Linked DNA regions of Homo sapiens. The protein of the gene in region 1 purifies or fractionates together with the protein of each later gene. This does not show direct contact. Each region holds a gene or a part of one and is shown in the gene's direction. Other genes may lie near its edges.

The links.
Region 2: the proteins of LURAP1L (region 1) and KLHL13 purify together in Homo sapiens (affinity purification with mass spectrometry; one large-scale study listed by BioGRID and IntAct). This does not show direct contact.
Region 3: the proteins of LURAP1L (region 1) and CDC42BPA purify together in Homo sapiens (affinity purification with mass spectrometry; 3 studies listed by BioGRID and IntAct, with this or other methods). This does not show direct contact.
Region 4: the proteins of LURAP1L (region 1) and ARHGEF2 purify together in Homo sapiens (affinity purification with mass spectrometry; one large-scale study listed by BioGRID and IntAct). This does not show direct contact.

Annotation. Positions count from the first base shown.
Region 1 is NC_000009.12:12,773,843-12,777,819, forward strand, and holds the start of LURAP1L (leucine rich adaptor protein 1-like), read left to right. Parts: upstream 1-1,177; 5' UTR 1,178-1,873; coding exon 1,874-2,185; intron 2,186-3,357; coding exon of another isoform or gene 3,358-3,387; exon of another isoform or gene 3,388-3,736; intron 3,737-3,977.
Region 2 is NC_000023.11:117,917,811-117,921,310, reverse strand, and holds part of KLHL13 (kelch-like protein 13), read left to right. Parts: intron 1-940; coding exon 941-1,073; intron 1,074-1,593; coding exon 1,594-1,790; intron 1,791-3,500. UniProt on the Homo sapiens protein: Substrate-specific adapter of a BCR (BTB-CUL3-RBX1) E3 ubiquitin-protein ligase complex required for mitotic progression and cytokinesis.
Region 3 is NC_000001.11:227,140,493-227,143,992, reverse strand, and holds part of CDC42BPA (serine/threonine-protein kinase MRCK alpha), read left to right. Parts: intron 1-968; coding exon 969-1,048; intron 1,049-3,500. UniProt on the Homo sapiens protein: Serine/threonine-protein kinase which is an important downstream effector of CDC42 and plays a role in the regulation of cytoskeleton reorganization and cell migration. Regulates actin cytoskeletal reorganization via phosphorylation of PPP1R12C and MYL9/MLC2.
Region 4 is NC_000001.11:155,972,048-155,975,547, reverse strand, and holds part of ARHGEF2 (rho guanine nucleotide exchange factor 2), read left to right. Parts: intron 1-3,500. UniProt on the Homo sapiens protein: Activates Rho-GTPases by promoting the exchange of GDP for GTP.

The DNA of each region.
Region 1 (3,977 bases):
CCTTGATTCTGTAAGTGGTAGTTCTAACTTTGAAATGGGTCATCTAACTTATAACTATTTTCTTCATTTCTTTTTAAAAGGGAGAAATAGCATGCAAATTTCTGGCATGTTGATAGAAAGTTCAGCATTTTTTCCCTGACATGAAATATTTCATTTAGAATGCGTATGTTTCCTCTACGTATAAGGTTTCCTAGAGTCAGATATGATAAAAACAAACTCTGAGATGTATATACCTATGTTCCTACAAGTGTAAAACCTGAATGATGTCTCTGGAAATGGAGCCTCGGAGTGACCAGGAACACAAATACTTATATGTCACAGAAATAGAGGGGCACATACTTTGAAATATTTCAATGGAAATCAAAAATTGTAGTTTACTGGATTGAAATTAGTATCCTCTACTTAAACATTTTTGACACAAACTCAATGCTGATTCAGATCTGTAATCCATGTAGCTCATAATAACTTACTTGGTAGAAGTATTTCAGATTAATGAATTGTACAATTGTACAAATTAATAAATTGTACAATTGTTCAACTATACAATTAATTGTACAATTTGTATAGTTGAAAAAATCTATAAATTAATTTATAGATAAATTATCAAAGAAGACAACATTTTAAATAGTTATTCCCAATATTTTTTCTTCCATAATTAAAATAAAAGTAAGTATCTCAGCAATTGCTTGTTCTTAAAATTTCACTGCTATCTCAGCAGTCATGTAAGTTATTCTGGCTATTTAATTTTTCACTTTTGTTTGCATACTGTAACAGTTGGTAGGATAATTAATTTTGATTGTACATTTCCATTGAACTTTTGATGAAATTGTTTCACTCTTTTTATTAGAATAAAATTATTAGGAAAGTCTTCTAAAGAGAGGTTTTCTGTTTGTTTTTCCTTTGAGGAAGGTAGAGAGATGGGAAACGAAGACACCAAATATAAAGTCATTCCTCTATCTCTCATTTTAAAACCTGTTTTAAAGGTTGTAGCTAGTCAGGAAAACTGAAAAATCAACTGGTATTCCTAACTAAAGCAGGGCTTTGAAACTCTGCTACTAGCGACAGGGTTGGGAAAATTCCGGTTGCTCTTCTTGTCTGTGATATACGGTAGAAGGGTTGGTCCTGGTTTGGTCCACCTGCCAGCGGAGTTTAAAGTTTCCGAGGCTCAGAGGAACACAATGACTTGGATCAAACAGCCTAAATGGGAAGAAGGACATTTTTGCTGCATCAAGGAAGCCGTTAAACTCCTGCTAAGCTAACTAGCTCTTTTTTATGGGTCCATGCACACGACCGAACTCCTCTTTCACTGACCAGAGATTATTTCTGACAACCCAGGATATCCCGAAAGCTTGGAGGCATATGGCTGGAAAATGAAACGACCCAGGACATCGTTTCTGGCTGCATCATTATTTTGTGTCGCGTAGTACCAGATGGGCAGTCAGTGAGCGGCGCAGGGATGTGAACGGACGGTTTTATAATGTGAAAATTTTCCCTTGGTAAAGCTAAAACAGATTTAATTTCCCTCTCTTTTCTTTCACTACTTCCCCCTCTTTATTCCCCCTCTGTCTGCAATATCAGTGAACTCAACTTTGCAGTGAGGTGGCCAAAAAGAGAGAGAATGAGGAGATCTTGATCATCTTAGTGTCGGAGGAGTCGCAGCGGACTGGGAACTGCAGCTGCGACCCCCCGCGTCCTGTGCGGATTTCAGGGCTGATACCGCATAGGCGGTTATGGAAAGGACGGTACACCGGAGCGGCGGAGGATAGAGACCCTGGCCCCCGGAGAGGTCTGCTGATTTCGCAGCAGCCTTCGAAGCCGTGGCTGCCTTTCATCTGCTGCGTTTTATTACTATTATCGCCGTTCCGGAAAAGTCATGGAAGACAGCCCGCTGCCAGACCTCAGAGACATCGAGCTGAAGCTGGGGCGCAAAGTACCCGAGAGTCTAGTGCGCTCTCTCCGTGGGGAGGAGCCGGTTCCCAGGGAAAGGGACAGGGACCCCTGCGGGGGGAGCGGTGGTGGTGGCGGCGGCGGCGGCGGCTGCAGTAGCAGCAGCAGCTACTGCAGCTTCCCTCCCTCCTTGTCGTCCTCCTCTTCGTCCTCCCCAACCTCTGGCTCCCCACGAGGTAGCCACTCTAGCGCCCTGGAGAGGCTAGAAACCAAGCTTCACCTCCTCAGGCAAGAGATGGTGAGTGTGGTGCGCCAGCCGCGGGGGCTGGGACCTGGGCTGGGCCAAAAGATGGGGCGATCTGAGAATGGGGCTGGGAGAGAGGACGGCAGGGGCTGCAGAGCGGAGCGCTGGGCGCGTGGGAAATGCTGGGTGGAGGAATGAGCAGGGGGCGCTCATCCGGAGGCAGCTGCTGCGAGGCTTGTTTACCGCGGACTTTGCTCGGTCACGGTTTGCAAAGACAGCACAGTCGGCTGGCTCCACTCTGTGTACTTTCGGACAACGCGACTCACTGCGCCGGGCTCTATTTAGCTGCCAGCCCGTAGCCTCTTAGGCACCAGCCCGTTGAGAGTTTGCAGTTATTGCACCCATCTAAGGCCTGCTGTGCGCTGTTAACACTTCGGGTAGGTTCAAAAGGTGGCTCAGTCCAATGCACTTACTGCAAAAATACTTCCTGGTTTGCCGGGAGGTGGCGTGGCAGGGTCCTTGCAGCCTTTCCTCCTAGCTCACCCTTCCACCAGTACCGCTCCGCCCTCCTGCCCTCCCTTCTTGGTGCAGCAGCCGCAGCTGTTCCAAGGCCACTGTCGAGCAGATTCTCCACAGCTGGTTCTGAAAACAATGGCCTACTCGTCCTTGATGTACTTATGAATAGCTTGTTTCACTATTTTGATCCCAGGGAGCAGGTGATCCCCAGGCCCAGGGATCTGCTAAGGACCATCTCCCACCCTTCTCCCTCAAGTCTCAATCTGCAGTTGTTTTCCCTGCTGTTTGCAAACGTTTGCCTGAGCATAGGACAATGAGATAAGTACAAGGTCTAGGAATACTCATTCTGGAAGTATTTAGACTAAGACACTATTTACTTGCCATGAGCTCTTGGGCACGTCACTTCACTTCTGTAGACCTCTGTGAATTTGATGAGCTGGTTAGAGAAAATGATCCCTCCCTAAGTCCTTTGAAAAAAACGACCACAAAGCAACAGCATTTTCTACTAGCTTGGAGATAAGGAAAGTTGCAACAGTGGGCCTCAAAAAGAGAAAATAATTTCATTAAATTAACTTCACAGTTGCTTTTGATTTGCTTCAAAGTAGGCTAGGAGATTTCTATCACTCCGACAGGAATGCTGGAAATTATTTCTATCATTCTATCGTTTAGTTATTATAGAGTTCTATCATTTAGTGATTGTTATTTTTTAGGTTGGACAAAAATTTAAGGACAACCCTTAGGTACATAATGGAGAAGCTGGAAAGTGGAAGTCATCTTGATGAGTTTGCAAAATAGATGAAAAGATAAAATGGAAAAGATGACAAACCAACAGGTCAGGGGATGCCTGATACCGTATCACAAAGATCAGACATACGTGTGGAGACTAACAGGTAAAACTATTTTCCACAAGAAAATTTCTTGTACAAGGAATTAAGAATGTTGCTAACTCTGCAAATTAAGGACTTAATATGAGGGACGAAGACATCAAGGAGATGAGGAAATTTTATTCCTAACCATGTCTTCTGTAATTTTACCCATGGAATGTTAATATATTCACTTAATCTAATAAATAAATCTTGTTGAAACATATTTTCTTTCTCAGTAGCTCACTGATAGCACATCAAAGATAATACTGTCATTTTGCTGGACACTCAGACACAATTTAGAGTATTTATATATAACTTGAAAACAGTAACATTTCCAAAAACCGATGAACCCCACCCTGTCCCAAGGAATGATTGGTATGTATGTGAAGATCATTTTCTGACAAAAATAATTACGTTCCACTTAGGATGCACAACCATGTTGTCCTGTAGAGAAGTCACAAGTT
Region 2 (3,500 bases), on another chromosome or scaffold:
CCCTAAAGCATACATCTCTGTACCCACAAAAATTAAAAATAAAAGATAAAAATTGAAAAACATGATGTTTTGAAATATGTGTATGTTGTAGATTCAACCTGTTATAATCTTAAAAGTGATTGTCATTCTTCCAACTTATATCAATAGAACAACTGTCTATTTGTCGTTAGTTGAGACCATCAGGGTGTAGTGAAAAAGCTAATCAACAAGGATTCTTCTCACCAGAGCTCTGTCACTCCTCTGAATTGTGGCTGCTAGCCTGTTAATTCTCCACTAAACCTTTAGGCATTTGGAGACAATTAAGTCTCATGTTGGGGTTTCCTGGGCTTTTTTTTGTTTTTTTTCAAACAAAGATAATTAAGTCTCAAACTTGAAACTTGAAAGATATTTGGCCAGGCAGCAGCAATGTACTGAGTATAGGCTTCTCAAAGAGATGAAGTAATACAATTAGTAGAAAGAACTATCGTGTACTTAATACAGTTGCTCTCTACTTTTCTTTCTCAACCTCCCCCAAAACAAAACAAAACCAAGATGCTTCAGTCAAGCACTATAAAAGGACTATTAAATTATCGCGAAAAGGAATGTTAAGACAGTCTAATACTCTCATTCTGCAGATGGGAAAGTAGAAGTGCACATTGTAATTATTTTTCAAAATAAGGTAAAAGCTGATAATTGTGTAAATAAGCAAAAGTATATACTTTTTCCTTAATCGTTTTTAACCTAAATTAGTCTTAATTTTGTGTTATTCCTACAGTGAAAGAAAACATGCATTGTCACATATCAGGAAAGTTGTGCAGTTATTTTTTCTTCTCCCGAATATTCTGTTGGCTTTATGTTCCACATATGTTGCACCACATTAATATTCAAACAATTTTAGCACACGAAGATTTGTAACCTCATTTTACCTTGATTAGTGACTCAACTCATGTTCTTGTTGTAGGGCTTTGACCAGCTTCGACTTGAAGGATTGCTTTGTGATGTGACCCTGATGCCAGGTGACACAGATGATGCTTTCCCTGTGCATAGAGTCATGATGGCATCTGCTAGTGATTACTTCAAGGCTATGTTCACAGGTAGTTTGCCTTTTAAAACTCTGAAACCACATTAAAACAATATGAAAAATCCGTGTTTAAATCTTTTTTATTTCTAACATGAAATTTGGTTCTTTTGGAAACAGCTTCAAAAGAAGTACACAACAGTATGTATGGTTTTCGGTGGTGCTGTTTTAACATGGAAAATTGATGCACTTTTTTCATACTGTCCATCTTTATCTCACAGCTTTTCTTTTTCAAGCTTATATCTAGTGGGCCATCAGAGACTCTGTGTCCTCCTAGTACAATCTCTACTCTATGTCAAAAAATAGGAAGTGAGAACATTTTGGAAGCACTTGCATCATATATGACCTCCATTAGTATAGAGATTATCTTTTTTAAGTACTTTCTTTTAACAGTAAAATGTGCAGCAGACTGACTCTAATATGACTGCTTATATAAGATAAGACTTTCCTTTGATTTTATTGCATCTAATTAGCAGCAGAAGTGAGTTTGACCATAATTATCCACCTTCATTTAATTGAATGTCTTTTTATTTAAGGTGGAATGAAAGAACAAGATTTAATGTGCATTAAACTTCATGGTGTGAGCAAAGTCGGTCTAAGGAAAATTATTGATTTCATTTATACTGCAAAGCTTTCTCTTAATATGGACAACCTTCAAGACACGCTGGAAGCTGCCAGTTTCCTACAGATTCTGCCAGTTTTGGACTTCTGTAAAGTGTTTCTCATATCTGGGGTAAGATATTTTGAAATCTGATTTTTCCTGTGGTAGACTCTGATGTAGCCTGTTTAGGACTCATGAAATCTGCTGTGCAGGAATGTGAAACTTGCCATTAGACAGATGTGTCTTGTTGTATGTGGTCTGTAAGCAAGGTGAGATTGAAACAGGTGCATTTTTATGAAATAGAATCATTTAATAAAAGCCTCTGTGTTGGCCGGGCATCGTGGCTCACGCCTGTAATCCCAGCACTTTGGGAGGCCGAGGCGGGCAGATCGTCTAAGGTTGGGAGTTCAAGACCAGCCTGACCAACATGGAGAAAGCCCGTCTCTACTAAAAATACAAAAATTAGCTGTGCATGGTGGTGCATGCCTGTAATTCCAGCTACTTGGGAGGCTGAGGCAGGAGAATCGCTTGAACCTGGGAGGTGGAGGTTGTGGCGAACTGAGATCACGCCATTGCACTCCAGCCTGGGCAACAAGAGTGAGACTCCATCTCAGGAAGAAAAAAAAAGCCTCTGTGTAATCAAATGACATGAGATACTAATAATGTTTGATGAAGATATATACTTTAACTGTTTGATAATGGTATGTACCATAATCTGGTTTTATTCACCTTAATGACTATACAAGCAGGCTTCTTAAATGTAATTGAATGGAAAAGTAATCTGAGCTTCTAGAACTCTTTAAAATTTCTTCTTTTAATAAGGGAGCTAGATCTTAAGAAGAACTAATACCTATGGGCAAACCTGTAAGAATGTAAGTCTTGATTCCATAGAAACATATCACCTACTGAATAGTGTTTAGCCATTTTTTAATAGATAAGATAGGACACATACAACTACCAATCGATGGAGTACTTAATGATAGTCACCCAGTTCCTGAAGAGAGTGTTTTATTTTAGTTGAGACCTTTAAATTTTACTTCTGGGGAGATAAATGGCTACATTGGACAGAAATATTGCCAAGACTTCCAGAGGTCTTGGAGCTTGTTTTTCTGATTAAGAATTCTGGCAATATTAATTTTTGGTATATTTTCTAACTCATTATGTTGATGGATATGTTTTCTATAATTTTTTAACTCATATGAATCTTAATATAGGTAAATAATTGCTGTTAGATCTTTACAACTTACATTTTTTGAACATGGAACCTTCTTTAAAACACTAAGTTTCAAGAGAGCCATGTCCTTAATTATTTTATTATTAAGGTACTTAACTATCTTAAAAGTCAGCCAATAACTAATTTAACTGGCCTATTGAAAGTGTGTTTTTTGTATGTTTGATTTTAGAAAACTCAGACTGCTGTCTCACAATTACTTATAAAATTTGAACTAATTGCTACTTTTAAGGGTTTTTATGGCAGCATGGTGCTATATTGTTGACTTGTATTGTCTTCTTTATTGCGAAAGTAGCCCAAGTGAAGTTGGTTAATTCCCATGCTATTGCTTGCCTCCATTACTGAATTTAGGTGCTAAATTTTATTTAAATTTGATCATGCAAGGCCCATTCCCTCAAGAGCTATTAGGATCTCACCTCTGGTTGTGTCACTGGCATGATATAACAACTTCATTTCAAGGAAAAATGAATCATATTGAATGTGATTTTCAAAATGCCTCAAGTCCAGAATTTAATTTAGTAGTAACACTTAAAGCTTGTACTTATAGACTCTTAACATTGCTTTACACTGATCTTAGCAACACATGGTCATCCTGAGCCAAATTAAGGAAA
Region 3 (3,500 bases), on another chromosome or scaffold:
TAATTAAACTGACTTCTCTTACCAATTTTTTATAAATAGAATTATATTTACTGTTAACAAATTATGAATCATTCCAAATTAAATACATAGTACAGTTGATCCTAATTATTCATGGAGGTTATGTTCTATATAGTTGCCTTGAACACTGTTAGCTAATATTGAACCATTGCTCTGAGGGAAATACAGGGTTAGGTTTCTGTGAGCCTCTGATCAACTGATCAATATATAGTCTTGTTTTATGTGTGCTTCTCTTTAAAGACACTTTATATAACATATGTTGTTGATTCATTAACACTGAACTCACCACTGAACTCACCACCAGCAGCACTGTAACTCGTGCCTGAATGAAGCTTTTCTAGCACATTATTTTCTCCATAAAGGCACATCACTGTCCTCTGGCGCTAGGAACACTAGACAGCGCTTCAGCACTATGCTTGGGAGCCTTTGCAAGCAGTGAATCACATACAGAGGGCCCAAAAATGTGAAATGCATGACACCAAAGAGACCCTGTAGAGGACACTTGTTTATAATATGAGAGCTTAAATGAGAAGGCAGAGCCTCTCCTGTTCAACCTCAGCTGGGAATGTGAGCATAGGACATCTCAAATTTTTCTCTGCTCTGCACGTGTCTACAAATGATCATAAAATTACCACAAGTATTGATTTGGGGTTTACAAATAAATATTAGCTTCTACACAAATTTGCAAATACAGAATACATGAATAATAATGACTGTATTCTCAATATCAGACTTTGAATCTTCATTTTACTTTAATTAGAATTTTAGAGTAGCAGTGTTCATGGTCTAAATTTTATATCACTAAACAACTATACCAAACTTACCAGTGTTTTAAAATTGAACAGTCACAATTTTTTTTTAAATATTTCTTTTTGGCATTTTATATTTATAGCCAAGCCTACAGATCATATAGCTATCTATTTCTTACCAGATGTTTTTTCCTCCTTTAGGAAACGATGCCCCCACCAACACATACTGCATTTTCTGGCCACCATCTGCCATTTGTTGGTTTTACATATACTAGTAGCTGGTAAGTTTGAAAAGTTAACATAGTTTGGGCCAAGTGCAGTGGCTCACGCCTGTAATCCCAACACTTTGGGAGGCCAAGACAGGTGTATCATGAGGTCAGGAGATCGAGACCAGCCTGGCCAATATGGTGAAACCCCATCTCTACTAAAAATACAAAACTTAGGTGGGCGTGGTGGCAGGTGCCTGTAATCCCAGCTACTCGGGAGGCCGAGGCAGGAGAATCACTTGAACCTGGGAGGTGGAGGTTGCAGTGAGCCGAGACTGCGCCATTGCAGTGCAGCCTGGGTGACAGAGCGAGACTCTGTCTTAAAAAAAAAAAAAGTTAACATAGTTTGGACAATTTAAAGCAAATTAAATTGAATTGAGGTTCGTAAAAGATGTATGAGAAAACTTTGTGAATTAAAACTTTTTAAAAAATAGAGTGAGCCTACTGCTGGAAATAGAAAGTTAAGCATTACAAAATGAATAGAACGCATGAAAATCTTAACTCGTTTTGGAGGGGAAAGAATGGAACAGAGAGCTCAGAATCTAATCCTTACCAATGAAGCAGTAATTAGAAGAGTTTCACGCTGTTGAATATTCTCTAGATGTCAAGCAGGAGAACTTTCAACCCATTAATTCTACCATCCTTTCACTGACCCTCACTTCACTTATATTCCCTATTTCCCCCTTACCCTGTTTAAATTCCATTGAGAATGATTATAATCACTCCTTGTATGCCATTTCAGTTCCTTTGACTGTCTCTCATTCTGTTATATTTGTTTTGCTAAGTGAACATTAACTATTACAATTTTATTCTCTACCTGTACAGTTCCAAATGACTAGAAAAAATAGCTGACTATTCTTACTGGTCTACTTTAAATTCATGATTACCAACCTCAAGTCCCCCTTGTCTGACAAATGTACTGTATTACCCTAGTATATTCACTCTTCCACTCACCTAGTAACTATTTTTTACTTTCTTTTTTTTTAAGAGATGGGGTCTTGTTCTGGGCAGCAGAAGGGCTGGAATGCAGTGGTGCAGTCCTAGCTCACTATAGCCTCAGACTCCTGGGCACAAATGATCCCCCTGCCTCAGCCTCCTGAGTAGCTGGGACAATAGGCACAAGCCACCATGCCCAGCTAATTTTTAAAACGATTTAGAAATGGAGTCTTGCTGTGCTGTCTAGGCTGGAGTGCAGTGGCACAGTCATAGATAACTACAGCCTCCTACTCCTCAAGCCGTCCTCTGGCCTTAACCTCCCCTGTTGCTGGGATTACAGATGTGAGCCACTGCATCTGGCCTATTTCTTTCTACTTGAGTTTGAAACCTCTGTCATCCTCACTTTCAGCTTGCATCTCCTTTCACTGAAAGGATTGAGGCAAACCGCAGACAACTTCCACAAGCTCCAGTTACCATATTTACCGCCTACTTACTGTTAGACCCAAATTCTCTGTTCTTTTCATGGATGAACTGTGCAAGCCTCTAGTAAGGCCAGTATCTTCCATCCCTTCCTGGCTAGTCTAGTGCATGTTTTGCTTTCATGTCATGAATTTTTTTCTTCTTGTGTCATCTGCATCATCAGATCATTTCTATCAGCTTACAAATGTCAGTTCTCCATCTTAATGCAAAATATAAAATCTGGATTCCTCTTCCTTTACCTCTTATCAACCATGTCTCTGCTTTACATTATAGAAAATTTACTTCAACTGTTGACTATATTTTGTTTATGTTTCTCATACTGTTGTTTCTTGAATCCATTCCAGTCAGGTGTGTGCCCCCATCACTTCATGCAAACTACTTTTATCGATGTCACTGTTGACCAACATGTTGCTAAATCTAATGATCACTTGTCAGTCCTAGTCTTACTTATTTGCTTAGTCTCATCTTATTTGCCACAGCTCCATACTTTTAAAATACCACCTTCTCCTGTCTTCTAGGGCACTTGACTGAGTTTCTCTCACCTTGCTGGTCATTCCTTCTCAGTCTCCATACCTGATCCCTCCTGATTTCCCTGGCTTGTTAATATCAGAGTGTCCTATGGCTCAGTCTTTGGACTTCTCTTTTCCATCTAAACTCTGTAGTGTTCTCCCAAAGATTTGCTGATGACTCCTAAACGTGCATCTCCAACTGAGACCTCTCCTCTCGTCTACTTAAAAATCTGTCTTAACCACCCACTTACTATGTAAATAACTTTCTTTTAGTTCTCTGATCCTGTTCAGGTGATCCTCTTAAAAGATAATCAGAACATGTCACTCCCCTGTTCAGAACCAGTCCACCCATCCCCAACTCCAGTGGCTTCATATTTTAACTCCAAATCAAACTTCTTACAAGGCCCTACATGACTGCCTTACTTTTATCTTTCTGAGTTTATTTTTCCTTGTTTACTCAACTCCATCCACACAGGCCTCCTTTCTGGGCTGTGAACATGCCAGACATACTCTTGTCTCGGGGCTTTAGTACTTCTGTTTCA
Region 4 (3,500 bases), on another chromosome or scaffold:
GAGGCTTCTGGGGACATAGACAAAAATTCTAGGGGTCGTGGAGGTTAGGGAGAGAGTTGAGGGGGAGGGGAGAAGTGAGGATAGGGGAAGGGAGTCTAAAGCTTAGGGAAGTCACTGAGTGACTTGCAGGAGGTTAGATGGGGCCTAGAGAAGGACCTACTGAGGCCGACCAGAGGAGTTACAGTGGGGTCTGATCTTAGCCACTCTGGCTGTGGAATTTGACCTTGGAATCAAGGAGGGGACAGATGTGAATGTGTGCATCCCCTGTGTGCATGTTACTGGTGTGCTGGTGTGTCAGTGTGTCTGTCTGCCTGCCTGCCCTCCTATTCTGTACCCAGATGCTCTGGGCTACTGTTTTGAACAGTGGTCAGCAAAGTAGGGGGTTCGTGCTCTCTGGCCACGAGGAAGTAGCTTCATCCTTAGCTTCAGTTTCTGGTTGGAAATATCATCTAGGAGCTGAGTGAGCGGATTGGTTAGGATTTCTGAAGCTGGTAAGAGAAAAGGCTGAGAGGAGCTGGCTGGACCCTTCCGGGTTTGTTTATGTCTCTTTGGGAGAGGGTGGGGGTGGGGTTGCAGGCAGCAGCTGCCCCCCTCCCAACCCAGCCGGCCTGCCTTGTGCCAGGAGGGCAGGGAGTCCTGGCACAGCTATTGTTCACTTGCACAAATGCCTGTCTGTTTGCATCGCTTACCCCCCCTCTCTTTCTGCTTGTCTCTCTCTCCTGGCCTGACAGGTGTGGCCGCGTAGGGGGCAGGCTGGGTTCCAGGATGCTTGGGTCTCAGGGTCCCTAACCTGATTTATTCCTTGTGGCCCTTAGCAATCCTCTTCCGTTTCACCCGTACCCACTCCCATTGCCAGTGTCTCATCTTCATTCACTAAGCAAGCATTTATTAAGTGCCTTTGTGTGTGCAGTGATGTCTTTCTGTGTTGTTTCTGGCTTTGGCATTAGTGTTTCCACTTGGCTGCCTTCCCCTCTGCCTCCTGTCTTCATCTTGTCCCTGGAAGCTCATAAAGGAGCAGGGCCCGGCTGAGACCACCCCAAGCCCTCTTCTCAGTCCCACCCCCAGCAATCCCTCACCTCTTCATTTCCCAGCCCTATAGCTCCTCCTCCAGGACTCAGTGCCCTTCATAGCCAACGGCGCCTCTGCTGTACAGGGGCTGAGCCACAGGTGACTCGAATCCTGGTGGAATGCTCCACAGGCTCTCCGGTCACTATTACAGAGGGTGTGGACAGAGGTGTCACCATCTTGGGGAAGGGGCTGCTGCCAGGTACAGCTGGAGGAGAGGTGATTCTGAGTACTCTGTGACTCTCCCAGAAGTCTTGATTTGGACATACCTGAGAGAGAAGCAAAGGCAGCTGAGAGAGCTGGGCACAGTGGCTCGCACCTGTAATCCTAGCATTTTGGAAGACCAAGGCAGCTGGATCGCATGAGCTCAGGAATTTGAGACAAGCCTGGGCAACATAGTGAGACCTCATCTCTACAAAAACATTAAGTTTTTAAAATCTATTATTAAAAAAAAAAAAGTCAGATGAGAGCTTAGGGCTTGCTTGGAGAAGCTCTACCTCGCCTGGGTGGATCTGCCTGGCCTTGCTGCCTGCTGGGAGCCCAGGAAGCCAAAGTCCTAGCCTTGGCATTGCCTTCCCCTCCATGTACGTCACTGTTTCCTCATCCCTTATTCTGGGAGACAAAGTGGAGAGAAGAGGGGAGACTGTGTTTGCCTTTGAGCTTTTCAGTAGAGATCCACAATGCCCTCTGCCATTGCTCCCATCTTTCTTTCTTTTTTCTTTTCTTTTTTTTTTTTTGAGACAGAGTCTCGCTCTGTCACCCAGGCTGGAGTGCAGTGGCATGATCTTGGCTCACTGCAACCTCCACCTCCTGCGTTCAAGCAATTCTCCTGCCTCAGCCTCCTGAGTAGTTGGGATTACAGGTGCCCACCACCATACCCGGCCAATTTTTGTATTTTTAGTAGAGATGGGGTTTTGCCATGTTGGCCAGGCTGGTCTCAAACTCCTGATCTCAAGTGATCTGCCCGCCTCGGCCTCTCAAAGTGTTAGGATTATAGGCATGAGCCACTGCGCTCGGCCTGGCCCTGTCTTTCTTTCCCAAAAGTGACTGAGATCTGGGATGACAGTGGAAGGAAGTTTGGGGTTGGTCTTCTGACTTCCAGAGGAAACCCTCAGGGTCTAAACTCAAAGGAAATAGGAGAGAATGGCTTAGAGCCCTTCAGGAGGAGGGAGAAAAGAGAAACAAGAAGAGACAGAAGGTTCTAAAGCTCTGATAAGGAAGGAAGAGGGTTTCCAGAATAGGGGCCAGGGTGCTACTGAGACCCCATGTCTTGGTGTCCATACATCCTTCCTTGCTTCTTTGCTTCCTTCCTTTTCTTTCATTTTGAGACATGTATTGGGTGCCTATTGTATACCAGGTATTGTGCTAAGGGCTTTCATATTCTTTATTTATCCTTGATGTAGCAGTAGTGTGGATGAAGGTGTGTAGCAAGAAGAACTTCCCATGGGATTTGTGAGAAAGAGACAGAATGACTCTAGGTCTGAGCGTGGTGGCTCACACCTATAATTCTAGCACTTTGGGGAGGCTGGGGCAGGAGGATCACTTGATCCTAGGAGTTCGAGACCAGCCTGGGCAACATAGCAAGACGCTGTCTCTACAAAAAAAATTTAAAAATTAGGTGAGCATCATGATGCATGCCTGTGGTCCCAGCTATTTGGAGGGCTGAGGTGGAAGGATCACTTGAGCCCGGGAGGTCAAGGCTGCGGTGAGCCATGATCATGCCAATGTACTCCAGTCCAGGCAACAGAGTGAGACCCTGTCTCAAAAAAAAAAAGAAAAAAAAAAGTATCTAGATGCTGGAGAGCAAAGGACTGAACCAAGCAGGAAGGGCCTCTGAGCACTGGGGTGGGTGTTATGGATTGTGGAGTAATGGGCCCTTTTTCTTGGTGCATAGGTTGGGTCTTGGAGGTAAAGGGCTGTCCTACTTGGGCGTGGGTAAATGGGAGACCAATGTGATTATCTTAAGAATACCTGGAAAAGAGTAGGACAAAGAACCAAACAAGCCCACTCACTCCACCTCTGGAGCAGGCACCCCTGGTAAGCAGGCCCTATGTCCTTCCATCCTCAGAAGCCTGAGCCCTGGGGCGGGCACAGGCAACCTCCGGGACAATAGCACTAGGCAGTGCCAGGGTCGCTTGCTGCTGGGCAGTGCCCATGCTGGGATGTGCTGCTGCTGTGGCTGCTGCCCGCTGCTGGCCCACCTAGAGCAGGGGTCACTTCGAGAGAGGGTGAGTGTTGGGAGGTGGAGGAGGCAGGGCCCAGAGTACCAGGGCTGTCTGTGGAGCATTGATGCCAGAGAGAGGAAGGGCCACTAGAGACCCTGTTCTCTGGCTGCCCCAGTCTTCTCCCTCCCTTTGCCACTCCATCTGAGCTGGTCAGACAGATGAGTGTTTGTGGATGCCACAGGGGGAGGGTGGAGGGCAAAGGACAGAGGT